Linked DNA regions of Homo sapiens. The protein of the gene in region 6 purifies or fractionates together with the protein of the main gene of each other region. This does not show direct contact. Each region holds a gene or a part of one and is shown on either strand. Other genes may lie near its edges.

Region 1 (4,097 bases), about 43 Mb from region 6:
CAATAAATAGTTTCCTTCTCAAACACACATGGAGAAATCCCATTTAAGAAGGTCACAGAGTCCCTTAGGACCCTAGGAGATTTCAGATGGAATGGAAGGACAAGGAGCAAGGTGTTCCAACCAATGTAACACAACACCTCAAAGGTCACGAAGGTCTCATAGGAGCATGACTGCCCTCCAGGTCTGCCTCAAGGCTGCACACTCCCCTGTGTGAACCCACTGTGAGCCAGACAAACACCAGACAGTTCCTTCATTCCACAAATATCCCCTGAGCATCAGCACCTCCCAGTGCCAGGCCTATGCTCTCCCCTAGGGAAAAAAATAATAATGATAATTATAAAGCTATAGCCCTCCAGAAGTCCTGCTCTAGTTGTAATATAAACAAGGCCTATCTACCTCCCTGCACAAGTAATATAGATCTGGCCTCTCAGTTGACACTGTCTTGCATTCTGCATCGTGCTTGAGAGCAGGCAACTCACCCTCTACATTTCCTTCATGTCTACCATATTCTTGTTCTTCCATGGTCCATGATTTCTATGAGAGGCCATGGGACAAGCCTAAATAGGAATCAGCAAAAGACAACATTTACACGTATGTCGAGAAGAAGAAAAGGTGGAGTAACAGATATAAAGAGTCTTGCTGAATGCAGAAATGTCACTTACTCGACAATGAAAAAAAGACCTTTAACACCATACCTGAATACCTGTCTTTCCACATGCATGTTTCCACGCTGACTGACTGATGTAGAATATCTTTAAAGACTATAGAGCATACATTGCCCCCTCCTTTTTTTTTTTTTTTTTTTCGGAGTATCGCTCTGTCGCCCAGGCTGGAATGCAGTGGCGCGATCTTGGCTCACTGAAACCTCTGCCTGCCTCCTGGGTTTAAGTGATTCTTCTGCCTCAGCCTCTCGAGTGGTCGGGATTACAGGTGTGCACCACCACACCCAGCTAATTTTTGTATTCTAGTAGAGACGGGGTTTCATCATATTGGCCAGGCTGGTCTTGAACTCCTGACCTCAAGTGATCCACCTGCCTTGGCTTCCCAATATGCTGGGATTACAGGCGTGAGCCACTGCGGCTGGCCTGCCCTTTTTGTCTCAAAGCAGCAATGAGGTTTTCCAATGCTCACACATCTTGCACAGTGTAGACAAAAACGGACTGTACATACACCATGAAAAAGAGCTATTTTGAAGACAATAGCTCAAAAACTGAGTTTGCAGGGATCTAAGCTTCATATGTATGAATCCTAAAAATAACAGAGATTCTTTGGAAAAGTCTATCAATCTCTTCAAACTTGTATTCATTTAGACTCTATTAAAAGCTTTTTGTTGGCCACGTTCGGTGGCTCACATCTATAATCCCAGCACTTTGGGAGGCTGAGGCGGGTGGATCATGACATCAGGAGTTTGAGACCAGCCTGACCAACATGGAGAAACCCTATCTCTACTAAAACTACAAAATTAGCTGTGCGTGGTGGCACAAGCCTGTAATCTCAGCTACTCAGGAGGCTGAGGCAGGAAAATCGCTTGAACCGGGGAGGCAGAGGTTGCGGTGAGCCGAGATTGCGCCATTGCACTCCAGCCTGGGCAAAAAGAGCAAAACTCCGTCTAAAAAAAAAAATAAAAAAATAAAAAGTTTTTTGTTGTTGTTGTTGTTACTAAAAGGACCCTGTTCGGGGACATCATGGTAGACTGGAAAGGACACTGAATTTGGCCAGAAGACGTAGTTTTAAATTCCTATTCCAGATCTACTTAGTTATGTGCCCTTCGACAAATCACAATCACTAGCCTCGATTTGCTTCTACGTGAAATGCAAAAGACAAACGCTTGCTCTTTTTCCTACCACCCGAGGTGGTCTTAATGACTGAACAGGGGTAAGCAGGGCTGCTATATAAGCATGAATGCCTGCTATTAGGACTTAGTCTGGATTTTGAATTCCAGAGGAAATATTACAGCAAAACTTCATTTTACTCAACAGTAGTACTGAAGGAGAAAACTATGTAGGATACTTAGATGATTATTATATTTAGGACTGAAAGCTGTGAAATCCTAGAACCGCAAAAGGCCATATCAGCCAGGATTTGGTGCGAGAAACAGAAATTTCTCTTGAATTTTGAAGATAAAGGGACTTAATATAAAGTAAGCACTTGACAGAAAAACTGGAAGGGTTGGAGGAGCAGGCTTTAGGTTGGCTCTCCATGAATGATCTCAGAACATAGCAGCACAGACCCTTGGGGAGAGCTATTGTATCTACCACATTCAGAAAGGTGAGAAATCAAGAAGGAACTCCCGGGGTCCAAACAAAACACCAGCTTTGTTGAAGCCAAAGAAGTGTAAGCTGCCAACAGGGAGTGGCCACTGTCACCACTGCCTCTCAGAGACACTGAAGAACTATTACAGAAAGTCCCACCTCTTTTAGCTTCTCACGTATCTGTAGAAACAACCCAAAGGATGCAGGAAATTGGCCCCTTTAATGTTTCTGCCCTCCATATCTCATATGCATGAATTTATTTGGTGGAAATATTAATTTTCAAGAAGAATGTTCGTCAAAAAGGAGTCTGGTAAATGTAGCTTTAGAAGTCCAGATTTTGTATTATAAGAAGTCCTACTAAGAGGATGTAGGAATCGATGCTATGTGAGATTCAACCATATCCAACACAGCACACCTGGGGAGGATCATGATTGGCATCTTTAACATTTTTTGACCAGATCAATTGCTGATTCGCTCTATGGTTTTCCAGCTTCATGAGCTTGTATGGCTTCTTCTATAAAATGGATTAAAATTAAATTAAATTTCCCTTACTCTTAACTATTTCATAGACAACTTCCAAAAAAAATGTTTTTTTTAATGGCAAAATAATATCTTAATCTTCTAGATATCAATGCTATATATTGATATCCATGTGACTACTTCAGGTAAATGTTTTCTTTACTAACTAATCCACTTTCTGTGATCTTGTACATTAAACGTCAATTCAGTAAAAAGAAACAGAACATTAACCAAATATTGTAAACAAAAAAAGCCCTTGAAGGCCGGGTGCGGTGGCTCACACCTGTAATCCTAGCACTTTGGGAGGCCGAGGTGGGCAGATTACCCGAGGTCAGGAGTTCCAGACCAGCCTGGCCAACATGGCAAAACCCCCGTCTCTACTAAAAATAAAAATAAAAATAAATTAGCTGGGCATGGTGGCATGTGCCTGTAATCCCAGATACTCCGGAGGCTGAGGCACGAGAATAGCTTGAACCCGGCTGCAGAGGTTGGCAGTGAGCCGAGATGGTGCCACTGCACTCTAGCCTGGGTGACAGAGCAAGACTCTGTCTCAAAAAAAAAAAAAAAAAAAAAAACCCTTGAAATAAAAGACAGATGTAGGATGCTTTTATTTCTGTTTTAATATAAATAAAATAATTTTAGTATAAATAAAAATAACTTTTTTCCAATTTTATATAATAGTTTGTTACTCAATTTATAATAATTTAGTTTCTTGATAAATGCATAGATTTAGTCAACCTCAATTAATAGGTACATGCAAACCATTTTTGGAATACAAATTGAAATAAAAATTTTGAGAATTAACACATGGTAATGATAATAAAATCGAACATTAGCTCTTAAAGAGATCAGAGGAAAACCAGAGAGACTCTTAAAGAACATAAGCATCCTTTATAATCTATTCCAATTAGTTAGTTCCTTTATATCCTATTTCAGTTAGTTAGTTACAAAAATCAATGGCTTTTTTATGGTCATATATGTAAATGACCTCAGAAATATGTCTATATTTCCTTTGCCTACTTACACATAGGGGCACAAGGCTCTGCTTAGGGGGATCAGACATAGAACAGAAAGGGAAAAGATTAGATGGAAAAGACTGTGAAATATGCCTGAGCATTTGGAATTTATGATATGATCTGAAAGGTTGCATGAACCTAATTATTAGCTCCAGTAACAAGAAGACCAATGATTTCAGTTACCAGGGGTTTGTTATTTAAGTGGAGACCCATAGCGTTAGTCAACAATTCACCAGCAATCCCCTTCCATTTTCTGCTGGCGATTCTTGTTCATGATAACATGAAACAATTCTGATAAGGAAACATTTAC
Region 2 (4,097 bases), on a different chromosome or scaffold from region 6:
TTCCTTTGGCTTCAATCAACTGATTGGATCCAACCACAGAGAATGGGATGCTAGCCTAGAAAGAGACACACAGAGTAGACAGGCTCCACACAGGGAACCCCAGAGTTCACTGGCAACACGAGAACATTAGCACAGACTTAACACATTGCTGTTGACTACAAAACTGAATTGGAAAGCTGGGGGTATGTAACATTTTCTTGAAAAGTGTCAGATACTTTCTACATGGGACAAATTGTACGAAAACAAATTAAACCTACAATAAAATTTCTAAGCTTTAGGTGATAGCTGTATCAAATTTTTTTTTTTTTTGAGACAGAGTCTTGCTCTGTCGCCAGGCTAGAGTGCAGAGGCGCGATCTCGGCTCACTGCAACCTCTGCCTCCTGGGTTCAAGTGATTCTCCTGCCTTAGCCTCCCGAGTGGCTGGGACTACAGGTGTGCACCACCACATCCACCTAATTTTTGTATTTTTGATGGAGATGAGATTTCACCATGTTGGCCAGGATGGTCTGGAACTCCTGGCCTCAACTGATCCATCTGCCTTGGCCTCTCAAAGTGCTGGGATTATAGGCATGAGCCACTGCATGAGGTCTTAAAATATATTGAAAGCAAAAATACTCTCGTAACTGAACATACCCAGGCAATCTCTCTCACCTCAACATGGACAACAGTAAACAGGAGTTATTTATGTTGTGGATCTGAAGCCAGTTCTTACCTTGAGAAGTCTAGTCTGCTCTTTAAAATCTTCATCTTCATCTGATTCTGCATCAGGTAAGTGATAGATTTTGATGTTATGTTCTTCAATTTCATCCAGAATCTGAGAGAATGACAAAACCAGGATCAATTTTAGCAAACTGCGTATGTTATTGTAGCCAATTCTAGCTCATCTTGTAAGAAATATATTGGAAATCATACAAATGTCAATAATCAAACTGATGACGAAAGTTACTGTCAAATAAATTTATAAAACTGCGGCCGGGTGTGGTGGCTCACGTCTGTAATCCCAGCACTTTGGGACGCCGAGGCAGGTGGATCACAAGGTCAGGAGATGGAGACCATCCTGGCTAACATGGTGAAACCCTGTCTCTACTAAAAATACAAAAAAATTAGCTAAGCGTGGCAGTGGACGCCTGTAGTCCCAGCTGCTGGGGAGGCTGAGGCAGGAGAATGGCGTGAACCCGGGAGGCGGAGCTTGCAGTGAGCTGAGACCACTGCACTTCAGCCTGGGTGACGGAGCAAGACTCCGTCTCAAAAAAAAAAAAAAAAAAAAAAAATTTACAAAACTGCTAGAAAGGTATTTATACTTGAATTTTGAGGATCCTCTGTACAGAATAAAAATAACATTAGCAATAATGCACCACTACCCTCAATGTACAAAGCAGCAGGAAGACTAACGATAGCCCCAGCACAACAGCTAAAATGGAAATCACACCACAATCAGCCTCAAGAAGGGTAATTGCCACAGAGAAGCTACAGGCATGAGAAGACCCTGGAGAACAGGCAGGAGTCTTAAAAGCAGAGAGAAGGGAGAAGTACCCCAGATGGAAAAAAAGGAAGAAAGAAAGAAAAAAAAACAAAACCTCGTCAAAGGCACAGAGAGGACACATGGGGTGCATTTTGAGAATAAGAAATTCAAAAGGTTGGAATCTAAGACATCCAGTTGGATAAGGAAACAAAAATTGGAATTACAAAGTGGAGAGTTCCATCAACACCAGGCTAGCGACCTGGGGATCTGTATTTCATTCAACAGGCAGCCAGCAGTCAGCAGTGAAATCCCACAATCGGACCTATCAAGCAGGCAGTAGTGTGGGGGATGGGGCTTGAGGGGAGAAAGAACTGGGCTGAAGTTGAAATACGAATGCATTCATCAGTCAATCAATTAAAACCCTAGCACTCAAATGCTCATTGCATGGTGGGCATTCTCACAGGCACCAGGCAGGCCACAGTTTTGTTTGGTCTCACCTCAGTACCTGAGCCATTCAGGGAAGAGAGAACAAGAGCAACGTGAGCAGAAAATATCCCGACCTCAAACTGTGCACTGGATTTGCTTTCTGGTTTTTAAGAATGGAAAGCCTTAATGTGACCTAAAAAGGGCCTTGAATGGTCAGAGATTTGGTCTTAGTACAATGTCTGCACTAATTCAGAACTCCAGAAAAGGCCCTCCTCTCTACATCCTTTACTCTGTAACTCGACCTTCAGTCTTTTCATAAATCCTTATTCCTAAATGGGAGGAACCATCTTATCTCTGGGAGAAACTGAGCAATAAGAAGCATGAACTTGCTCACCTGTCCTCATCTTACGGCCCCTTTCCTGGTCTACTATCCATCCATGCTAACCTCATCTTTTGTCCTATGCTGGCCTCATAAAGATGGAGCTTACACTTTGGAGGAGAGAAGAGTTCGGAAACAGTTAGTAAGCTATTTAAAAGTGAGCAGAGGAGTCAGAAGTGATGAGTAAAAAATAATTTACACATTTCTCAGTCTGGATGATTTCAAGAATTGTGGGACCATTTAAAGAGACAGGGGAGCTGGAAGGACAGGAGTCCATCAGTGGTCAAAAGAGGACTCCTGTGGGTAAATGTGGTTCACAACAAGAAATAAGATACCTGGAAGGGCAAATCAGAAGCCACAGAAATAATGTGATCAAAATAATACTAAGGAATACTGACCTTCAGGGATCAGGAAGGAAGGTGGTAAAAAACAGCAGATAGAAAAGCAAACACAGTGGTTCAGCAGCCAAGGAAGGGAAGTTTCAGAAGTAGAATTGCCAATCACACAAACCCCACAGGTGGGGCCCACATCTGAGAACTGAACTGTTGGCCAAGCCCATGAGAGAGCAATTGCAGGTGGATGACAGGAAGCCTGAGTGAACAGGATCATGGGGAGGGCAGATAACAGCTACCAGTAAGTGTCTGACTAGAAGAAAGGCTGGTGAAGGCAAGAAGCTAGTAGAGGCTGGCAGGAGGCAAGAGGTTCTTGTAGATAGGGCAGAATGAACAAACTGGTAGGCATCAAGGAGAAACTGGAGGAAGAGAAGTGATTAATGAGGCCCAAGAAGGAAGGGATAAAAGCTCGAAGTATTTCGATTCATCTCAGATGTTGTAATCCAGCACTAAATGTTTCGCATACAGGATTAGAGATTAGAATTACAGCATTCTAACCCTGACACCACCCCCATTTCTACCTCAAAGAAATTTAATATAGCAGAGTACAAAAGGTGAAGTTCCCTTAAGTAGGAATTACTAAAGTATTTATTAGCATAAAAACGTCTACGCTTCCAGGGGTTCTTCAAAGGTTCAAATACTTTCTAAAAAACTGGCAGGCACTTGAGACAATTTAGGAAAAGGCTGCCAAACATGACTACATGCTGCTTAAAAATTGCTTTGGAAAAAAGCACCAAGAAAAATGTGAAAAAATGAAAGTCAAACCAGGTGAAATCATCTGCAACGTGATAGTCAACATCTAAAAATAAGTATATGTGTTAAGTCAATAAAAAAGCAAGAGCCAAGTCCCTGCAACCTGAGAGAATACACCAACCGGCATCAACACCAGCACAGATACTCACATCGGCAATCAAGGAAAGGCAAATTCAAATGAGATACAATTTCTCAGACAGGAAACACATTACAAAAACTGGCAACATAACCAGGACAGTTTTAGGGGGTGGAGAGAAGAGTACACTTTGGAAATGTAAATTGTTACAAACTTACTTTAGAGCAAATTTAGTCATCCTTCAAAAATTTAAATGTATACTTATTTCCTAAGAATTCGTTTGGCTCACACAATTGTGAAAAGATAGATGTACACCAGTGTTCATTACAACAATTATGCAACAAATCTATTATGTGCCAGACATTATTCGGAACTCTGGGAATACATAAGTGAACAAAGCAGATTCCTGATCTCAGGACCTGGGGTCAGGGGTCAGGAGAAGCCAAAAAACACGCTAGAGAAATACTTTATGCAGTGTGGGGGGAGTGCTACCAGCAGAGCAGGGGATGGAGATGTGAAATCTTGTGTGCAGCGTTGGGCTCAGTGAGGGAGTTCCCCACACAGGTATCTGAGGGAAGACTGTTCCAGGCAGAGGGTATCACTAGCAA
Region 3 (4,097 bases), about 33 Mb from region 6:
GAGGCTCTGGCCAGGGGACATGGCCAGCAGCAGCTGCAACTAAAGGCCCTGCCCACACTTTGAGGTCACACACGTTTTCCTACCTCATGAAAGGGCCTCCACTCCCAGCCTCTCTCACAGGAATATCTGCCCCAATGGCAGGAGCTTTGCGGTGATTCCCAGGAAGCCTGAGGGTTGTATCAGATGAGGACAACTAGCTAGGGCAGGAGGTGAAGGATGGCCTCAGGCCACCCTGTGAGAGCTATAGTTAGACTCCTAGAATCTTGGCCTTGTAGCCCCCAGTGACCTCAGAGACTGTCTGGCTACCATGTGGTAAATGAAGCTGTGACCAGAGATGTCACCTGACTTGATTGTGGTCACACATCCAGATAGAAGGTGGCCTCTGGGTCTCCAGCTTGCCTTGACTCACAACTAGAGGCCTCAGTGGTGGTCGTGAGGTCAAGGGTCCACATGGGTCACGGGCCCTACCTGTGGATAACTTGGCCAGCCAGGAAGGGCCCGCTTCTCAGGTGTGCGTCAGGCCAGAGGGCGCTGCGCTCAGGCTGGGTGTCCGGTGGTCAGCATCCTTCATGCACATTCCAGGACTCTGCTTGGGGGAGTTAACACTCCATCAGCTCTGATCCAGGTGGAGTTCCTGGGGCCTCCCTGGGTCTTAGGCCAGGCCTGTCCAGGTGGTGGCAGGGCCAGACACAGGCTGTTACCCCAGCAGCCTTCCCCTCGGGGTGTGGGAGAGCCCAGCTCTCTCCCGGGGGACACTGTGGTCCTAGGCTTTGCTTCATGATTCCCTTGGGCCCCCTTTGTTTCCTTTTGTTTCCTTATCTTTGTTGTGCTTTGAATGGGGGCCGCTGGCTCTTCGTTGAGGACTGAGGGGGTGTCCGACCCAGCATGGCACAGGGTGCAAAGTCCCTGTCTCCTCTGAGTGGGCTTCTCCCTCTGCAGAGGGGGAATGCTGATCCACCCTCTCCAGGGTGGCTGGAGATGAGCCTCTCTGGGTTGCCCCTTCCTGGCTGCCACTAGCCCCTAACCGTGGTGCCGCCAGCAGACGCACTGCTTCCCTGCCTTCACCCCCATCCCCATCACAGCTCTAGATTCCAAAACATTGGGGGCCATGAGTGTCCTCCCATCCCTTCTTCCTGCCCTGGCTCTCACACATCAACTGCGGACCCCCCAAATTCCCCCACACATGCACACATGCCCAGAGAGCTCGGGAAGTGAGAGCTGGTGGAGACTGTCCCTGCTGGGAGATGTCCCGGGAGCTGGCACCTGCCATCTTGGCCTGACCCAGTATGCTCCTTTCATCAGAGCTTAGTCTGTTTGAAATGGACCAGATACAGGCTGGGTAACCCCTCTGCTTACAGTCAGCCCCATGGAGCCTCATCTTCTCCTTTGATTCTTGTCGCTTCCCTGAAGAGCTGAGGATGTGCCCTTTCTGGGGCAGAGACCCGGGCATATCAGTAAAGACCTGGGGAGGTGCCCCACACCTCCACAGCTGAACACCTTCCGCTCTTCCCCACCCACCCCCCAGGAGGAATCGGAGAAGCAGCTCTGTCTGATTGAGGCGCAGACCATGGAGGCCCTGCTGGCTCTGCTCCCAGAACTCTCTGTCTTGGCACAACAGGTAGGAGGGGAGGGTGGTTCCCGGGGACCTCACAGTTCTCAGGGAATGTCCCCGGGTCTCACCGAATGTGTTTCATTGCAGAATTACACCGAGTGGCTGCAGGATCTCAAAGAGAAAGGCCCCACGCTGCTGAAGCACCCGCCAGCTCCCGCGGAGCCCTCCTCGGTAAGTGTGGCTGCCTGGCAAGGCTCCTCTGTTGGGCTCCCCTGTCCCCAGGAAGAGGGGCTGCCCCAAGTCATTTCAACGGGAAGCCAAGAGAAGAACCTTTGTGTGTGGCTAACTAAACACCTGTTCTTCCCTCTCTCAGGACCTGGCCTCCAAGTTGAGGGAGGCCGAGGAGACGCAGAGCACACTGCAGGCCGAGTGTGACCAGTACCGCAGCATCCTGGCGGAGACGGTGAGCATTGGGAACCTGTCAGCTGGGCATCCCTGGGAGGCTGCAGGGAAGGAGAGCTTCGGGGCCTATGGGGCAGGAGGTGGCCTGGTGTTTTGGAAAAGCCCACTGGCCTTGTGACTCTGGGCCCCGTTCTTCGGCTGCATGGTAAATGGATGGCACCCTCTGAGGTCGTCATTGTTTCTAAGCTGAAGAGAAGGCCAAGTTGAAGGTTCGGGGCCGGTCTCTAAGCTGGGGAAGGGGAAGGACGGGGTAAGCAGCTGGTGACTGCCAGGTTGAACCCCGTTTGTGACTAAGAGCAATGCCAGGTCTAGCCCTGCCACTCTCTGGCCAGCCCATCCTGTGCTCCTCGTCCTGGGCCATTGACACACTTGGTGCTGGTGGCAAACCCCGGCAGTAACAAGCATCCTAGTGGTCCTGTGCAGGTCACAGACCTCATTTCCTTGCCTGGCACTGCAGCCACACTGGCCCACTGGCCAGAGGACCTCCCTCCCAGGACAGTGGTTGCCTTCCCTCCCCACCTAACGCTGGCGCTCATGAAGTCAGCAGGCGGAGCACGGCAGGTCACCAGGGCTGCAGGGACAGGAAGATGCGGTTGTGTGGTGCGGGTCTCGGGAGGGAGAGGGCCCTGCCTCACCTCGGTTTCCCCCCAGGAGGGCATGCTCAGAGACCTGCAGAAGAGCGTGGAGGAGGAGGAGCAGGTGTGGAGGGCCAAGGTGGGCGCCGCAGAGGAGGAGCTCCAGAAGGTATATGCAGCCCTGCCTGCCTCCCGGCGCCGTGGAGCACATGAAGCCCAGGGGAGAGTTGACAGGATTGTCTCTGTCACCTGTGAGACTCGTGTGTCTCGGTGGGGCTTTTCCACGACACCCTATGAAGCACAGTTGCGGGATGACAGCTCAGTCCGTCCTCCAGGAGGCCCCCGCCTAGGAAGACACTGCCAGATGGCGCCAGGGTGACCGTCCCAGCTGGGCGGAGTGGGCACCCCCGGGGCTTCCTAAGTTGGGTCAGTCCCGCTCGGGTCCTAGCATGGCCTCGGAAGGAGACACCCCCAGGTGCTCGTGTCTGACGGAGCCTTCCCCTTGCTTTGTAGTCCCGGGTCACAGTGAAGCATCTCGAAGAGATTGTAGAGAAGCTAAAAGGAGAACTTGAAAGTTCGGACCAGGTATGTGCTCTGCTCAGAGAACTCTTTCTCTTGTCCCGGGAGCCTCTTTGAAAGTGACGTTAATGCAGAGGACACTTCACTGATTTCTTCCTCATGGACCGTGTGCCTTAAGAGAGGCATTCTCTCTCAAGCCAAGGGATCTTGTCCATCCTGTTTTTCCTTAATGAGAGACATTGACTACCTCAGAGGACCCTGAGACCCAGCCACGGGCCCTGTGCAGACCTGCCCAGCCCTGGTGAACAGGGCTTCTGCCACGGCCTTCACAGTCAAGGTGGCCCCACTGCCCCCTTCAGACGCCACAGGGAGCCCTGGAGAAGGTACCCTTGGTACCTGCTTTTGCAAGTAAATCTAAGAGCATGTCAGTCCCCAGGAGTGCCCGGGTGCAGCCTGCCACTTTCCGTAAGGGGTTCTCTTGCCGCGGACTAGTTTCTCGTTTGCTTGGTAGCTGGTGGGCCTCAGGGATCTCCCGAGAGGCCTCACCTATCCCAGGGCCAGCCTGCTCCCTGAGGTGAGTGCCCTTTGAGCAGAGGCTGCTGGCGCATGCGTGTGCGTGTCTGTGCATCTGTCCAGGTGAGGGAGCACACGTCGCATTTGGAGGCAGAGCTGGAAAAGCACATGGCGGCCGCCAGCGCCGAGTGCCAGAACTACGCCAAGGAGGTGGCAGGGGTGAGTCTGCCCCCCAAGGAGTGCAGCCCCTGCCCAGCAGATCTGCGGTCCTCCCTGAGCTGCTTCTCCTCAGCCCTGTGGGAGCAGCTCTCGGTGACATAAGCCTTGAAGTCCGAGTCCTCAGGCGTTTGCCCGAAGCCTCACAGGCCCCTCGTTGGGCTGTCAGGCCTGAGGTGTCTCTCAGGGCAGGTTTCAAAAAGGCAGCCTCCCAGCCAGGACAGGGGCAGAGCCAGGCAGCCCTGCCCCGAGGGAGGCGT
Region 4 (4,097 bases), on a different chromosome or scaffold from region 6:
GCCCTCAGCCCCGGCAGTGGCAGCATGGTGCTCCAGATCTCCTCCCAGCAGCTAGCTGCTCCACCCCACCACCCTTCTTGTCTGTGACTCCTTGGAGAGGATCCAGGAGCCATGCAGCAAGAAGCCTGCAGACCTGTCACCTCCCACACTGGAGAGGCTCCCGTGAAGCCCGGCCTCAGCAGTCATTTCCCATACCATGATTCTTTCTCTGTTTAAAAAAAAAAAAATTCTTCCAATGATATCTTTATGAAAACAGAAAGAGAAGCATCTGTGTTTCCTTCTAATTACATCTTGTAGCTGCCTGTTTGATTTGCATCTTTCTAAGATGGTTGACTTTACAAGTTATCTCAATAAAAGTGGCCAGATGCCTAACTCAGAACCAGAGCATTTTGAACCACAAAATGGAATTGAAATTTTGGCCCAGAACAAGCTGGTTCTGTTATCAGGCCCCTGGGTGGGGCAGGGGGCAGCCAGCCAGGTCCTAGACATAACTTTTGGGGGATATGGGGCTTGTGTCCCCTCAGTGTCACAACATGCCTCACAGTGGACTTCGCATGCGTTGATATTTGAAGCACGATCATCAAAACTTTGTGATAATTGATCGTAGTGTTTAGTAACAATGTAAACACTTAAAAAAATTCAAGATAGAAAATAAAAATGAAGGCAAGTTGGGACTGCCAGAGAAGACCCGTCACTCCTCATCCAAGTTATCTGCGACTCCCATATGTTTTGTGTCAAAGACTCACCTTTATTGTGCTGTCCAATCCCTTCCCCAGTGCAGAAACAAGTCTCCCATGGAGGGGGCTGGGGCAGACACAGTTTGCTGAAAGGAGCAATTTTGAGTGGTTGTGGCATTCTGTGTCCATTTCTGGCTCCACAGCTTTCTTCATTTGTAGGAACAAGTCCTTGTCCTGTTGTTAGTGGCTGATGGAAGTTGTCACCCACCAGGCACCAAGGCAGGAGTGACCCTATACTGTCTTTCTTGTGGAGCTGGGTCTTGGCAGCCAGATCTTGATTCAGGATCTGCCATGCCTCTTCCTGACCACAGCCCCGCTCCTCCATCCTCTGCAGGTGAATGCCCAGGCCCTTACCAGTGCCTTCTCTCCACACACCAAGCCTTGGATTGGTCTGGCAGAAGCTCTGGGGACACTGATGCGAGCCTGGGCTGGGTCCCCCAAAGGGACCATCCAGGTGATAACACAGGGTGAGCTGGGGACCTTGCAGAGGGAGGGGGAGGAGGGGATGAGGGAGTGTGGGATCTGCCCTGCTGGGTGTATTTGCTGCAGGACACAGGGTTAGTGAGAGGCAGTGAGGGTGCCTTGGACCCTGCCCTGAGTATAGCTCCCTTACTACTGGTGGGAGGGTGGTAAAGGGAGGGGTTAAAAAAAGTCGTTGGAAAGATGTACTGAATATTCATAAATCATGTTTATGTAGCATTTTTAAGACCTAGATATTTTGGGTGCAAGAGAAACCTCTACGAGAGAGAGAGTTTCATGCGAGAGGTCGTAGGATGGCTGGAGGGAGGCCCTAATTAAGCAACAGGATGCTGGATTCTGGTTTTTGGCCCTGTCTCTTCCCTGCTGTGTGACTCTCCCTTCTGAGGCTTGGATTCTTCACTTGTAAAGTGAGAGTTAGGGGCAGATGAGCCAGGAGCGGTGAGGACACTTTGTGCTCTGTAACTTACTAAGGTGGTACCTTGGGCCGTCTGACAGCCCTCGAGAGAGAGTTTGCTCAGCCGTGGAGTGGGAATGAGAACAGTGCCCTCTGACCACCCCTCGGGCTGCTGAGTGGGCTGTGGCCACCTTTGCAGTGGATCCAGTACTGTGCGGATGTGGTTGAGTGACCAAGGAGGGCTCCAGTTTCCTTAACCCTGTAGACGTGTATCTTTCCCCATGGACTCTTGGGTGTCTCACAGTTGGGCAGAGATTGCAGGGAGAGGGCAGCTAAACCCTAGGCATTGACAATACCAGGGAAGGGCAGAGCCAGGGGGTCCCACTGGCCTGGGTGTCCAAGCGCCGAAGGAAACAAGGCAGGGAGCTGGGCAGCAGTTGCTTCGGTTACTTCTTTCTGCTTTGATTTCCTGAGGCTGGCAAGGCTCTGAGTGCCAGGAAGGGGTAAGAGTAGGGAATTTTCCTGTGTCCCCTGGGAGAATAATAGGTAGGCCAGGATGGCCAAGCCAGGTGCAGGGTTGGGGAGCGGAGTGGAGTTGAGCTGAGTTTTGGAGAGGAGTTTCTCAGGGTGGTTAAAACATCCTGGGTTTCCTGGCTTGGGCCCAGATTATGCCTCTTCTGAGCCCACTGAAGGGCGAGTGGACCTGCCTGGAGCAAGCTGCCTTTGGGGTCCCCAGGGCAGCGAGGAGCCCATAGTCCAGAGCTAGGTGCCAGTGGCTTCCTGCCCCCTCCTGTAGTGCTCAACAAACAGTGACCTCATGGTAGCTTCTCTCTGTCCCCAGGAACATCCCTGAAGAATGCTGGGAACTGCCTAAGCCCCGCAGTCATTGTCGGCCTCCTGAAAGAGGCTTCCAAGCAGGCGGATGTGAACTTGGTGAACGCTAAGCTGCTGGTGAAAGAGGCTGGCCTCAATGTGCGCCCCTCTCCCCCACGCTGCCTCCCCATCCCTGTCAGCACTAGTCTTCTCCCCCACATTTCCAGAGCCCGTTCTCTGAGCGGAGGCCTAGGTCCCAGCCTTGCATCGGCCTGTCTACCTGTGAGGGGTAGCTGCAGTTTCTTCAACTGCAAAATGAAGATACTGCCTGGCCCCGAGTGTTGCTAATGGCACTGCTTTGTGTATGAGTGCTGTGGGAATGGAGGCAGTAGAAGTGTCCCCATTTCACAGCCAAAGAAAATGACGAGCTAGTGTGTTTGACTCTGCCCGACATGGCTGCCAGGCCATGTTTGACTCTGCCTAACTCCCCTCAGGGCTCCTCATGCCGTAGCACCCGGGTTCTTGATTCACTTGCAAGCTCTAGGAGCCCTGCTGCCTTGCACGGCTTCCCGTTGGCGCCTTCCCCTCTGGTTCCCTGTTTAGATCAAAGTCTGTTTCAAAGCCTGTTGCTCAGCCAGTGGGAGCTGGCAGAAGGGATAGGCAGTAGAGCTGCCATGTCCTCACCCCTCTGCTCCCCTCCACTCCTGCATGCCAGTCATGCCACTGATGCCGTGCAGGAGGCTGTGTCAGAGCAGGAGGGGCCAGAGTGGAGTCTCCTCACAGCCCTGCCTCCCTGCTTTTCTTTCCTCCCTGTTTTCCTCCAAGCCTTCGCCTGTGCCTGGCAGATCTCTTTGCCCTCCCTTTAAGGAGATCATTGGCTGTTCCAGGAAGCTGATGCCGAAGGGCACACAGCTTGGCCCATTTGCCCTCTCCCTTCTGGTCCTGAATTACTGAGCACATTATCCAGGCTGGAGCCCTACATCCTACCAATGGGTGATTTGGCCAAGAGAGGAGGGTGGACGTGGTGCAGCCAGGAGGTGTAACAGTCACCTTGCCTTCTCCACACAGGTCACCACCTCCCACAGCCCTGCTGCACCAGGGGAGCAAGGCTTCGGGGAATGCCTCCTGGCCGTGGCCCTGGCAGGCGCCCCTTACCAGGCTGTGGGCTTGGTCCAAGGCACTACGCCTGTACTGCAGGGGCTCAATGGAGCTGTCTTCAGGCCAGAAGTGCCTCTCCGCAGGGACCTGCCCCTGCTCCTATTCCGGACTCAGACCTCTGACCCTGCAATGCTGCCTACCATGATTGGTGAGGAGGGCCCTGTAGGGCTGGCTGGTGTCCTTGAGGCTGGGGTGGGGTCTGCCCTGGAATTGAACTCTACCCACCTTCCTTTAGCCCCTCTTCATGTCCCAGGGTGTCTCTGGATCTGCACCATACAGAGGGTCTGATGCCAGTTTTCAGAACCTTCAGGGAGTGGATACTCAGTTCAAAGAGGGAAAGTGCCTTATCCAGGGTCACAGAGCAGCATGGCAGGGGTGGGGCCATAGCCTCTATTCCTGCCCAGCTGTGGATCCTCAGCTTGCCATGTTAGGTACACTGGACCAGCTTGTGGAGCCATAGCCCAGGAGCTCAGGGACATTGAGTGCAGGTTTCTTACTCCTACCTGCTGGCCCTG
Region 5 (4,299 bases), on a different chromosome or scaffold from region 6:
AAAAAAAAAAAAAGTAGGCCGGGTGCAGTGGCTCACGTCTGTAATCCCAGCACTCTGGGAGGCCAAGGCATGTGGATCACAAGGTCAGGAGATCGAGACCATCCTGGCTAACACCGTGAAACCCCGTCTCTACTAAATACACAAAAAATTAGCCGGGCGTGGTGGTGGGCGCCTGTAGTCCCAGCTACTCGGGAAGCTGAGGCAGGAGAATGGCGTGAACCCGGGAGGCGGAGCTTGCAGTGAGCCGAGATCGCGCCACTGCACTCCAGCCTGGGTGACAGAGCAAGACTCCGTCTCAAAAAAAAAAAGGTATTAGCTACCTATCTTTCCTTCAGCATGGTGCTGGTACTGAATATTCTCAATATTTACAATTCGGTCTCCCCCAAAAGAGAAGAAAAACAAGGGTTTTAAAAGAACCAAAGAAAAGACAAGGAATAACATTCTAGTGTAAGAAAAAATATTTTTAAAAATGAGAAATATTGGGAAGTTAAAACTCAGGATGGGTAAACTTTCATATAAATACACACTGGGGGGATGTGAGGGAAAAGGAAGGACCAGTTCCTCAATCATATTTCTCCATGGTACCACAATAAAGAGACAATCCCATTTTCAAAGAAATTAGCTTTTATTTGAGACTACTTTTCCCCACATGTATCTTTTAAGAATTCTATGCTATGTGATAACCTGCTTATCCACTGTCCCAATACCAAAATTTCTAACAGCGAATTATACAACTGCTCTAGGTAATAAATAAGGGTTGTCCTTCACTGATTAAGGGAATAAACTTCAATAAACTTAACAACAACAAAAAAAATCACACTTTAGTTTTTAAGTTTTAACAGATGTATTTCAAATACAGCATGTTTTACAGGAGTTCACAAGCTTTTCATCTCTAAAAAAAAACTTTCAACTACCTGACTGTTCCATTCCACCCCAGACAAACCTGACATGACTGAACTACTTCATGTGTTACTTTCCCAAAAATAAAGTTAAAAAAAAAAAGGAACTCATGATAAATGCAGATCTCTAATACAGTATCTAACACAAAAGAAGCTTTAAAAAGACAGTTTCTTTCCTTATTTGATTAGCTAGAAGTTTATCTAGGTAAAAGCAAAAAAAAAAATTTACAAAGCATAACATAACATTGGGGTTCTTTTTATACTCAAGATGTTTAACTGTTCAAAATGACAACAATTACATCTTTTAAGAGTATAATAAAATGGGTGGAAAACAGCAACACAACTGACAAAAGTGTAGATGCTAAATAAACCAAAGTTTTTTTCTTAAGGAGTAGGAAGAATCCACAGCTTGGGGAAATCTCAGAATTAAAAAAAAAAAAAAAAAAAAGAGGAAAAAAAATGTCCTTAATTGCAACCATTCCGTTATCAATAGCGTCCTAAAAGAGAAAAAGCAAAAAAAAAAAAAAAAAAAAAAAGTTAACAATTATAGTTTAATTTGCCTCATATTTTTCCAACTATTAACTGCCACCTTCCACCTTATACTCTAATATTCTAAAGTAAGCCATTAATTAGAAATGAGGTTTTTTATGCTACAAAAGTAAAGTTCACATACTTGGGCTGTAGGAACGAGATCTTGATCGTGATCTATATCGACTATAATAAGGAGAAGGTGATCGTCTTCTGTAAGAAATGAAAGATTACTTAGCATACTATATAATCACTCCACTGAGGCAGATGAAAATAAAAATTCCTCATCATTCAAAATAATAATGTACCTAAGGTGATAACTACTTAATATTAAGTTCTCTTTCTGCCAATGAGACCAGAAAAGTATATAGCACAACAAAATACTGACATATACAGACTGCTAACTTCTGCTCCCAAAGGCGTCATATATGATCTATTTTAAAAATCAAGTTTTTATTCATATGTATCCAACATAAAAGTGCCAAGTAACACTACTATCATCTAATTTAGAACAGAAAGCTCAAGTTAAAACATTACCTGTATCGGTAATCATAGTCTTCATATCTGTCATACCCACGATCATATCCTCTATCATAGTAAGAATCTCGACGTCTGCCACCACCTCCACCTCCACCGCCGCCGCCTCCTCCACCACCCCCACCACTACTGCAGAAAAATGTAAAAATTCTCCATTAGTGTGAATGACTATTTTCCAGGACACTTTAATACAAATTGAATGGCTTAAAAAAGAGAAAAGTGAGGAAGAACATCCCTTTCATGAGAAATTGCCTCCGTATCTCATTTTACTGACTCCCATGGTATTCTGGTTTGCCTTATTCCCTACATACATAATCAAGAAGGGCTTCACAAAACTCTCAAAACTATTAACTGCTTTTCTACTAATGCACTGCCCAAATTAAAATCTTTTCAACAAATTGAAACGATGAAGCACTGTGTTGAGCAGCAGTATAAAAATGCTAAGATGCATTCCTACTGCTAAATGAGACTGGTAAATAAATAAATAAATGAATAAAAGGTGTATCCCTGTGACTAAAAGGCAATAAACACCAAGAATTTTTAAGTAACTCTGGACACCAAAGAGAATACCAAGGAATGACTATATTCCTTCTTTTATTCCCAAGAAATACCTCTGTGAATACTGCCTTTGGTTGTATATTTTATTTTTATTTTTTGAGACGGAGTCTTGCTCTGTCGCCCAGGCTGGAGTGCAGTGGTGCGATCTCGGCTCACTGCAAGCCCTGCCTCCGGGGTTCATGCCATTCTCCTGCCTCAGCCTCCTGAGTAGCTGGGACTACAGGTGCCTGCCACCATGCCCAGCCAATTTTTTGTATTTTTAGTAGAGACGGGGTTTCACCGTGGTCCCGATCTCGTGATCTCGTGATCCACCCGCCTCGGCCTCCCAAAGTGCTGGGATTACAGGTGTAAGCCACTGCGCCCGGCAAATGAACATCGTGAGCCAGCCAGGAGGGTTGTATATTTAAAAACATTATCAAAACCCCTACTTATGTTTTTTTTCTTTTTTGAGAAAGAGTCTCACTCTGTTGCCCAGGCTCACTGCAACCTCTGCCTCCCAAGTTCAAGTGATTCCTGTGCCTCAGCTCCCGAGCAGCTGGGATTACAGGCATGTGCCACCACACCTGGCTGATTTTTTATTTTTTTTTAGTAGAAGCAGGGTTTTGCCATGTTGCCCCTTGCCAGAATCAATTCTAATTATAGGAAAAAAGTTTCTGAGTAATCAAAATTTTGCACATATTTCTGGTGGATTTCATAGTTTAGCTTAGGAAACTTGAACTCTTACTGAGTTGGTCTGCCCATGTAGATGCCTGGTGTTGGTGTGTGCGCTCTCTTGGTTATAGAATAATCCACCCGAATTCTTCTACCATCCAGCTCCATTCCATTTGCCCTTTCCATAGCCTATAAAGAACAGGCACAAAAAGTCACGTATAATTCACCAGTCTTGAAGTAATCATTACTTAAAATTAAGCACAAAGTATATGTAATCCAAATAAACTCCTGATTTTGAAAATGACAGCAATGTAGCTTGTACAGGGCATTGTATAGACAATTCTAGACCTCAACAATGTCCAGAACACATTTAAATTTACTCAGCAGAAAGAGTAGTTAATAAACTTTCCCAAATAATTTTCCAGTTCTGGTTCAATTCCCATTCCCCACTCCATGAGATCAACAAAGAGTAGTTAACAAACTTTCCTAAATAATTTTCCAGTTCTGGTTCAATTCCCATTCCCCACTCCATGAGATCAACAGGGGAGCGGAGACTGAAGTCTTTTCAAGCTAAATTTTTTGTAGGTTGCCCAGGTAGACTGCCATTTCATACTTTCTAGTCTCCAGCGATTTCACTTACAAAGACTGACTTCAGAACATTAAAAAGGGTTTGCTAAGCTTTATACATGTTCTTTTTATAACCTGCCCCCAATCTTATTCTTTAGTTTGCAGTCTAGTACACTGATTAAGACTCAGTGAGCAGCCAAGAAGAAATGATATAAACAGACAAGAACAAATTTATCGTAATGCCTTTCAACCTTTTATTGAGACTGAACTAATAAAAGTATAATAAACTAATAAAAACTACACAATTTTTATGTATCCACAAATATTTCTCCGTAAGAGTGTCCCATAAACTAAAGGTCATTAAAAAAAAAAAAAAAAAAAAAAGGAGGTCTCACTCCATTGCCCAGGCTGGCAGTGGATCATAGTTCACTGTGGCCTCAAACTTCTTGGCTTATGCAATCCTCCAGCCTTAGTCTCCTAAGTAGCTAGGACCACAGGTTTGTGCCACCATGCTCGGCTAATTAAAACAAAAATTCTTGGTAGAGAAGGGGTCTAAACA
Region 6 (4,097 bases):
TAAATGTATAGACAACTTTACGGCACCTAGTTCAACGCCTGACATGCTTAAGTCCTCAATGGTAGCCTTCTGCTTCAGGATGCAAAAATGAAAAAGCCCATTTTAGGGAGAAAGGCACAAGTTAATGCTATTGAGAATGTTTTCGTGAAGCTACTGCTGTGGCTGAAATTCAGAATCACATCTAAGATTTAGCCATCTTGGCCACTGACACAAAGTAATGGATCAGAAGCTGAGTCATGTTAAAATTTAAAAATGACATGCTACTTACTTCTATATGTTCTTTACAGTATTCCAACCCAATGTCACTAAGTATTTTTTTCACAGTTTTCCGGGCTTTTCTTAAACTGCCAAGATTGTTGACAGGAAGTTGGAACATAGTTTCTATTGGAAAAAAAAATTTAAGTCAAAGTCAAAACACGTACAACTTGTAATATTTACTAATTCCACTGATGATAGGATCATAAAACCTACCCATCTGACAAAAAAGGTGCATAGATATCCTCATCTAGTGTGTACACACACAGACACACACCTGCTTTCATGTGCATATGGCTTGATATATCCATCCATCCATCCTTCCTTCCTTTTCTTAAGACAGAGTCTTACTCTGTCGCGCAGGCTGGAGTGCAGTGCACTCATGGTTCATTGACTGCAGTGCACTCACGATTCACCATAGCCTCAACCTTCTGGGCTCAAGTGATCCTCTCACCTCAGCTTCTCAAGAGGAAGGGACTCCAGGAGTGCGCCACTATGCCCAACTAATTTTTAAAATTTTTTTGTAGAGACTAGGTCTCACTATGTTGCCAAGGCTGCTCACAAACTCCTGGACTCAAGCCATCCTCCTGCCTTGGCACCCCAAAGTGCTGGGATTATAGGCGTGAGCCACTGAGCCGAGCACATATCTACTATATTTTGAATACTTAAAGCAGGCAGGCAAAATAAGTACTCTCTGATTTTCCCAGTTTTTAACAGGACATTTTGACTATGAGTCTAATCTGGCATAATTCTGATAAGACTTAACAACAGTTCAGTAATGAACTTCAAGATGAAAATTAGAGAAATACTAGCAATCAATTATTTTTAAATCAAGTGTTAGTGCTTTTCTCATTTTGATGTTGAACATCTGAAAACAGAAAAATGCTTACCAGTTCATCATCATTACAGTTTTGAGTGCCAGGGTAAAGAGGTTTTTGTTGAATTGGAACTGTCCTGCCTACTGCTACGGTATTCTTTAAAACAAAAACAAAAACAAAAACAAAAACAAAAAAACCTTAAGTTTCTGTATACTCCCCAAACTAAATACAGTAATGATATGTGACTCGACCAATGCATGCCCCCACTCCACCCCTGCCTGCAACGTACCTGGGCAAAGGTACTCAAAAATGTTAACTGTTACAGACTTTAAGGAGGGTACTTTTGAAAAAAATGAAAAGCCTGTATGTGTCTAAGGGAACTCAAAAATTATTTTAATGACCTAATACATTAAATTAGAAATTCATATCAACTTTCCCAAGTTCCTTAAAACAGAAGTTTGTCTTTAATGAGAAAATAAAATCAGTAAAACCTGGGCAGCTGAGAATATGTATGGTTTCTAATGAGATCAGAAATGCTTCCCATAATATGGTAAAAATTTATCAATTTAATAATCCAAATCTAACACAATTTCGCAGGATATAAAGTAGTTCTAAAACCCAAAACAGCAAAAACAAAAGACAAAGCACCAGGAATTAAAATTTAATATATGCAAATCCAGTTTTCTAATTAACAAAGGCTGTTACTCTGTAATACCAATATCATCTGTAAATGGCAAGTCAACTAATCCAAATGTAATAAAATGCTGCCTCATTTATTATTCTAATCCAAAATCAACGTTAACTATAAAAAAATGGAAAATAAAAGGAGAAAGAGTGAAATCTACCAAAATCAAAGAGTAACCCCTAGAAATTTTGAAACTGGGTACGTTACTCTAACTTAGAAGTCTCAAAATATTCTATATGAAGTACCAAAGTCTAATTGGGGCCGAAAATGAAAAGTATTTCAAAAAAACCTTCTAGGCCTTATCATACTCAAGATAGAATTGCTGCTCACTATGAAGCAATGACTATGGTGTCCCCTGCTCTCTCTGCTATGCTAATAATCTGCATATTGTGAAGCCAACTACAGACTTAGAAGTCACTTCTGATATAAATTAAGACCAAATCAATTATTTTTTGTCCAAATTTTATTGCTAAATTGTTTTAAACCATCTTTTGTGGTGGCTTAAAACCAGCAAATTCTTTATCACTTGCTTAATTTAAAACAGTTAGTACACACTGGGCATGGTGCCTCACGCCTGTAATCCCAACACTTTAGGAGGCCGAGGAGGGCAGATCACGAGGTCAAGAGATCGAGACCAACCTGGCCAACATGGTGAAAACCCGACTCTACTAAAAATACAAAAAATTAGCTGGACGTAGTGGCACGTGCCTGTAATCCCAGCTACTCGGGAGGCTGAGGCAGGAGAATCGCTTGAACCCGGGAGGCAGAGGTTGCAGTGAGCCAAGATCGCACCACTGCACTCCAGCATGGCGAGAGCGAGATTCCATCTCAAAAACAGACAAACAAAAAACACATACAGTTACTACAAACCAGGTCTTTTAGAGAGAAGCACATGTTAGAAAAATATTTCAGAAATACAGAAAAGTGTCACAGGCTAATTCTGAAGAAACCAGGTATTAAAATGGATGCCCACAGATACCTAAGACTGGGAAGAGACATCTTGTTTCTCTGTTCATTTCATAAACTCTCTATGGGCCAAAATTCAGTTCTTTGGGAACTTCCTGAGTTAACTCTGCTTCACACTTCATAACAGATGTGTCCAGAAGCCAGCCATTAATGGTTTCCCTGCCTCCTGGATGAGTGGCTCAACAATCTCAGAAAAACAAAGACATAAAGATTTGGAAATGCAGCCACCACTGGGGTCATTAGTCTATAGAAAACATAAAAAAGAATCAAGCGGCAGCTTGGGGGAAAGAAAAACCCATTCTTCTAAGTGCCTACCCACAGCTTAAAAAGTCGGTTTAAGACATTAAGATGAAGCATCTCACTGCCTGGTAGGTATTTTTTTCTGAAAAAGTGAGTATGCCCATAAGGGAACTTAGTTGTAAGAAACTTGTAATTTATAAAAAGCGGTATTTCAGCCACAGAGTTGGTGTTGGGTTTACTTATCTATTTTGAATTTAAAAGGCTTATAAATAAAGCAGTGACACTGCTTACTGGGAAATGCTGTACCAAAAAATGTTATCTTGCTGTAGGCTTGGCAACTAGGAGAAATCTGTATTTTTTTTTTGAGACAGGGTTCCAGTTTTTTTTTTTTGTTTTTTTTTTTGAGACAGTCTCGCTCTGTCACCCAGGCTGGAGTGCAGTGTCACGATCTTGGCTCACTGCAAGCTCCGCCTCCCAGGTTCACACCATACTCCTGCCTCAGCCTCCTGAGTAGCTGGGACTACAGGCGCCACCACCATGCCCAGCTAATTTTTTGTATTTTTAGTAGAGATGGGGTTTCACCGTTTAGCCAGGATGGTCTTGATCTGACCTCGTGATCCGCCCATCTTGTGATCCGCCCATCTCAGCCTCCCAAAGTGCTGGGATTACAGCCACCGCGCCCGGCATTTTTTTTTTTTGAGACGGAGTTTTGCTCTTGTTGCCCAGGCTGGAGTGCAATGGCACAAATCTTGGCTCACTGCAACCTCTGCCTCCCAGGCTCAAGCAATTCTCCTTCCTCAACCTCCTGAGTAGCTGGGACTACAGGCGCGTACCACCACATCGTGCTAATTTTTGTATTTTTAATAGAGACAGGGCTTCACCATGTTGGCCAGGCTGGTCTCAAACTCCTGACCTCAGGTGATCCACCTGCCTCAGCCTCCCAAAGTGCTGGGATTACAGGCGTGCACCACCATGCCTGGCCAGGAATGTATGTTCATGTTAACTCACGTTAACGCCTGGCCAGGGTTCCACTTTTCATCCAGGCTGGAGTGTAGTGGTGTAATCATAGCTCACTGCAGCCTTGACTTCCTGGGCACAAGTGATCTTCCCACCTCAGCCCCACCAGCTGGGAC
Region 7 (4,097 bases), on a different chromosome or scaffold from region 6:
TAGCATGCAATGCCCTATAAATTATAAGTGACTTGTTAATCTTCCCGAGATCCTAACCTCCATAAAGGCAGGGCCCGGGCCTGTCATCTTATCTGCTGGCCCCACCATGTGGGATTTGCCTGGCTTCAGCATCAGTAACTTGCAGCACCAGTGCTAAGCCTCTTACCCTCTGACAATCCATAGCATATGGGACTAACCCCTATCCTGTTGAGCCAACCACCTACTTTAGTTCACTAAAACAATTTTTTGTGTTGCTTTTAAAGTTAAAGCAAGTAGGCCGGGTGTGGTGGCTCATGCCTGTAATCCCAGCACTTTGGGAGGCCGAGGCGGGTGGATCACCTGAGGTCAAGAGATAGAGACCAGACTGGCCAACGGTGAAACCCCGTCTCTGTTAATGATACAAAAATTAGCCAGGTGTGGTGGCAGACACCTGTAGTCCAGCTACTCAGGATGCTGAGGCAGGAGAATCGCTTGAACCCGGGAGGTGGAGATTTCAGTGAGCTAAGATTGTGACATTGCACTCCAACCTGGACAAGAGCGAAACTCCGTCTCCAAAAAAATAAAAATAAAAAATAAAGTTAAGGTAAGTTAGGGCCAGGGGCAGTGGTTCATGCCTGTAATCCCAGCACTTTGGGAGGCTGAGGCGGGCAGATCACCTGAGGTTAGGAGTTTGAGACCAGCCTGGCCAACATGATGAAACCCGTCTCTACTAAAAATACAAAAATTAACTGGGTGTGGTGGTGCATGCCTGTAGTCCCAGCTACTTGGGAGACTGAGGCAGGAGGATCGCTTGAATCTAGGAGGCAGAGGTTGCAGTGAACCAAGATCGCACCACTGCACTCCAGCCTGGGCGGCAGAGTGAGATCCTGTCTCAAAAAAAAAAAAAAAAAAAGTTAAAGCAAGTTAGACTTTTAGGCTTTTATAGATGCTTAGAATATTTCTTCCTGCTAATAACAAAAATATATCATTTACCTTTGCTGACATCCCATATGATGGCTGTGTTATCCACAGAGGCAGAAGCCATTAAATTCCCATCAGTTGCCCAGCAAATATCATACACATCTTCTAAGTGGCCCCTAGAATCCAAAAACAAAGAGGAAAAAAGCAATTACTCCCCAGGTATAGCAGCTTACCCCTGTAATCCCAGCACTTTGGGAGGCCAAGGTAGACAGACTGCCTGTGGTCAGGAGTTCAAGGCCAGCCTGGCTAACACAGTAAAATCCCATCTCTACTCAAAATACAAAAATCAGCCAGGTGCTGTGGCTCACGCCTGTAATCCCAGCACTTTGGGAGGCCGAGGCAGGCAGATCACAAGGTCGGGAGATCGAGACCATCCTGGCCAACATGGTGAAACCACGTCTCTACTAAAATACAAAAAATTAGCCAGGCGTGGTGGTGCACACCTGCAGACCCAGCTACTCAGGAGGGTGAGGGAGGGGAATCACTTGAACCTGGGAGGCAGAGATTGCAGTGAGCCAAGATCGCGCCACTACACTCCAGCCTGGCGACAGAGTGAGACTCCATCTCAAAAAAAAAAAAAAATTAGCCAAAAAAAAAATAGCCAGGTGTGGTGGCGCACACCTGTAGTCCCTGCTACTTGGGGGCTGAGGCAGGAGAATCCCCTGAACCCAGCAGGCAGAGATTGCAGTGAGCCAAGATCATGCCACTGCACTCCAGCCTGCGCAACAGAGTGAGACTCTGACTCTAAACAAAACAAAACAAAAAGCAATTATTAACTCAAAAACGGACAAGTTATCAAAAATATAAGGACAATCTCCAGAACTAAGCATTAAAATGAGATTCCAAAATTTCCACTGGCACTATATTAGCTATAGCTATAAAAAACTACTTTCAAGGATAGCTATATCTGACCGGTCGCAGTGGCTCACGCCTGTAATCCCAGCACTTTGGGAGGCCGAGGTGGGCGGATCACCTGAGGTTGGGAGTTTGAGACTAGCCTGACCAACATGGAGAAACCCCGTCTCTACTAAAAATACAAAAAAATTAGCTGGGCATAGTGGTGCAGGCCTGTAATCCCAGCTACTCGGGAGGCTGAGGTAGGAGAATCGCTTGAACCCAGGAGGCAGAGGTTGCGGTGAGCCGAGATCATGCCATTGCACTCCAGCCTGGGCAACAAGAGCAAAACTCCATCTAAAAAAAAAAAAAAAAAAAAAAAGGATAGCTGTATCTTTAAAATTGAATACTTTTTACTAAGAAAAATGTATAGCCGAAACTAAGAAAATCCATTTTAATTATGCTTTCATCCTTTAAAACTATTGTCTTAGGACTGTTTCATATAAATAAAACTTCTAAATTAGACCAGCCTGGGCAACATAGTGAGACCCTGTCTCCACAGAAATTTAAAAATCCTCTCCCTCTCCCTCTCCCTCCACCGTCTCCCTCTCCCTCTCCCGCTCTCTCCACAGTCTCCCTCTGATGCCAAGCCGAGGCTGGACGGTACTGCCGCCATCTCGGCTCACTGCAACCTCCCTGCCTGATTCTCCTGCCTCAGCCTGCCGAGTGCCTGGGATTGCAGGCGCACGCCGCCACGCCTGTCTGGTTTTCGTATTTTTTTGGTGGAGATGGGGTTTCGCTGTGTTGGCCGGGCTGGTCTCCAGCTCCTAATCGCGAGTGATCTGCCAGCCTCAGCCTCCCGAGGTGCCGGGATTGCAGACAGAGTCTCACTCACTCAGTGCTCAATGTTGCCCAGGCTGGAGGGCACTGGCGTGGTCTCCGCTCGCTACAACCTCCACCTCCCAGCCGCCTGCCTTGGCCTCCCAAAGTGCTGAGATTGCAGCCTCTGCCCGGCCGCCACCCCGTCTAGGAAGTGAGTAGCGTCTCTGCCCGGCCGCCCATCGTCTGAGATGTGGGGAGCGCCTCTGCCCCGCCGCCCTGTCTGGGAGGTGAGGAGCGTCTCTGCCCGGCCGCCCCGTCTGAGAAGTGAGGAGCCCCTCCGCCCGGCAGCCGCCCCGTCTGGGAAGAGAGGAGCCCCTCCGCCCAGCAGCCGCCCCGTCTGGGAAGAGAGGAGCATCTCTGCCCGGCAGCTGCCCCGTCCAGGAGGTGGGGGGCAGCCCCCGCCCGGCCAGCTGCCCCGTCCGGGAGGTGGGGGGCGCCTCTGCCCGGCCGCCCTGTCTGGGAAGTGAGGAGCCCCTCTACCCGGCCGCCACCCCGTCTGGGAGGTGTACCCAACAGCTCACTGAGAACGGGCCATGATGACGATGGCGGTTTTGTCGAATAGAAAAAGGGGAAATGTGGGGAAAAGATAGAGAAATCAGATTGTTGCTGTGTCTGTGTAGAAAGAGGTAGACATAGGAGACTCCATTTTGTTCTGTACTAAGAAAAATTCTTCTGCCTTGGGATGCTGCTAATCTATAACCTTACCCCCAACCCCCTGCTCTCTGAAACATGTGCTGTGTCAACTCAGGGTTAAATGGATTAAGGACGGTACAAGATGTGCTTTGTTAAACAGATGCTTGAAGGCAGCATGCTCCTTCAGAGTCATCACCACTCCCTAATCTCAAGTACCCAGGGACACAAACACTGCGGAAGGCCACTGGGTCCTCTGCCTAGGAAAACCAGAGACCCTTGTTCACTTGTTTATCTGCTGACCTTCCCTCCACTATTGTCCTATGACCCTGCCAAATCCCCCTCTCCGAGAAACACCCAAGAATGATCAATAAATACTAAAAAAAAAAAAAAAAAAAAAAAAAAAAAATTTAAAAATCAGCAGGGCATGGTAGCATGCACCTGTAGTCCCAGCTATTTGGGAGGTGAGAGGATCACTTGAGCCCGGGAAGTCAAGGCTGCAGGGTACTGTGATCACAGTACAGCACTCCAGCCTGGGCGACAATGAGACCCTATCTCAAAAGAAAAGAAAAAAAAAGTCAAAAGGTATATTCCATTTAATGCACTCATCGTAAACAGAGATCACTGCCATGGTCCCTCCCAAGTTACCGCAGAGTCTTCACAACCGTCCAGTTCTCCTTGTTCAGCTGGGCCTCGTCCTCATCCTGAAAAGCGATCTGCTCCGGCTCCTTGTTATCATTCACCTTCCACAATAGGATGACAGCATCTGCAGGGTGATTCAGTAACAGTGA

Evidence for each region.
Region 1: the proteins of ADNP (region 6) and PLCB1 purify together in Homo sapiens (affinity purification with mass spectrometry; one large-scale study listed by BioGRID and IntAct). This does not show direct contact.
Region 2: the proteins of ADNP (region 6) and SEPTIN2 fractionate together in Homo sapiens (co-fractionation; one large-scale study listed by BioGRID). This does not show direct contact.
Region 3: the proteins of ADNP (region 6) and RRBP1 purify together in Homo sapiens (affinity purification with mass spectrometry; one large-scale study listed by BioGRID and IntAct). This does not show direct contact.
Region 4: the proteins of ADNP (region 6) and PHGDH fractionate together in Homo sapiens (co-fractionation; one large-scale study listed by BioGRID). This does not show direct contact.
Region 5: the proteins of ADNP (region 6) and TRA2A purify together in Homo sapiens (affinity purification with mass spectrometry; one large-scale study listed by BioGRID and IntAct). This does not show direct contact.
Region 7: the proteins of ADNP (region 6) and CHAF1B purify together in Homo sapiens (affinity purification with mass spectrometry, with the first as the bait; one large-scale study listed by BioGRID). This does not show direct contact.

The regions. Positions count from the first base shown.
Region 1 is NC_000020.11:8,138,331-8,142,427, reverse strand, and holds part of PLCB1 (1-phosphatidylinositol 4,5-bisphosphate phosphodiesterase beta-1), read right to left. Parts: intron 1-4,097.
Region 2 is NC_000002.12:241,339,710-241,343,806, reverse strand, and holds part of SEPTIN2 (septin-2), read right to left. Parts: intron 816-4,097; coding exon 714-815; intron 56-713; coding exon 1-55.
Region 3 is NC_000020.11:17,619,376-17,623,472, reverse strand, and holds part of RRBP1 (ribosome-binding protein 1), read left to right. Parts: intron 1-1,525; coding exon 1,526-1,618; intron 1,619-1,699; coding exon 1,700-1,783; intron 1,784-1,925; coding exon 1,926-2,015; intron 2,016-2,665; coding exon 2,666-2,758; intron 2,759-3,102; coding exon 3,103-3,174; intron 3,175-3,744; coding exon 3,745-3,840; intron 3,841-4,097. UniProt on the Homo sapiens protein: Acts as a ribosome receptor and mediates interaction between the ribosome and the endoplasmic reticulum membrane.
Region 4 is NC_000001.11:119,739,315-119,743,411, forward strand, and holds part of PHGDH (D-3-phosphoglycerate dehydrogenase), read left to right. Parts: intron 1-1,071; coding exon 1,072-1,204; intron 1,205-2,452; coding exon 2,453-2,583; intron 2,584-3,492; coding exon 3,493-3,730; intron 3,731-4,097. UniProt on the Homo sapiens protein: Catalyzes the reversible oxidation of 3-phospho-D-glycerate to 3-phosphonooxypyruvate, the first step of the phosphorylated L-serine biosynthesis pathway.
Region 5 is NC_000007.14:23,504,174-23,508,472, forward strand, and holds the end of TRA2A (transformer-2 protein homolog alpha), read right to left. Parts: intron 3,363-4,299; coding exon 3,247-3,362; intron 2,094-3,246; coding exon 1,965-2,093; intron 1,641-1,964; coding exon 1,573-1,640; intron 1,397-1,572; coding exon 1,386-1,396; 3' UTR 607-1,385; downstream 1-606. UniProt on the Homo sapiens protein: Sequence-specific RNA-binding protein which participates in the control of pre-mRNA splicing.
Region 6 is NC_000020.11:50,903,621-50,907,717, forward strand, and holds part of ADNP (activity-dependent neuroprotector homeobox protein), read right to left. Parts: intron 1,230-4,097; 5' UTR 1,146-1,229; intron 382-1,145; coding exon of another isoform or gene 377-381; coding exon 269-376; intron 1-268.
Region 7 is NC_000021.9:36,391,526-36,395,622, reverse strand, and holds part of CHAF1B (chromatin assembly factor 1 subunit B), read right to left. Parts: intron 4,073-4,097; coding exon 3,955-4,072; intron 1,077-3,954; coding exon 973-1,076; intron 1-972. UniProt on the Homo sapiens protein: Acts as a component of the histone chaperone complex chromatin assembly factor 1 (CAF-1), which assembles histone octamers onto DNA during replication and repair.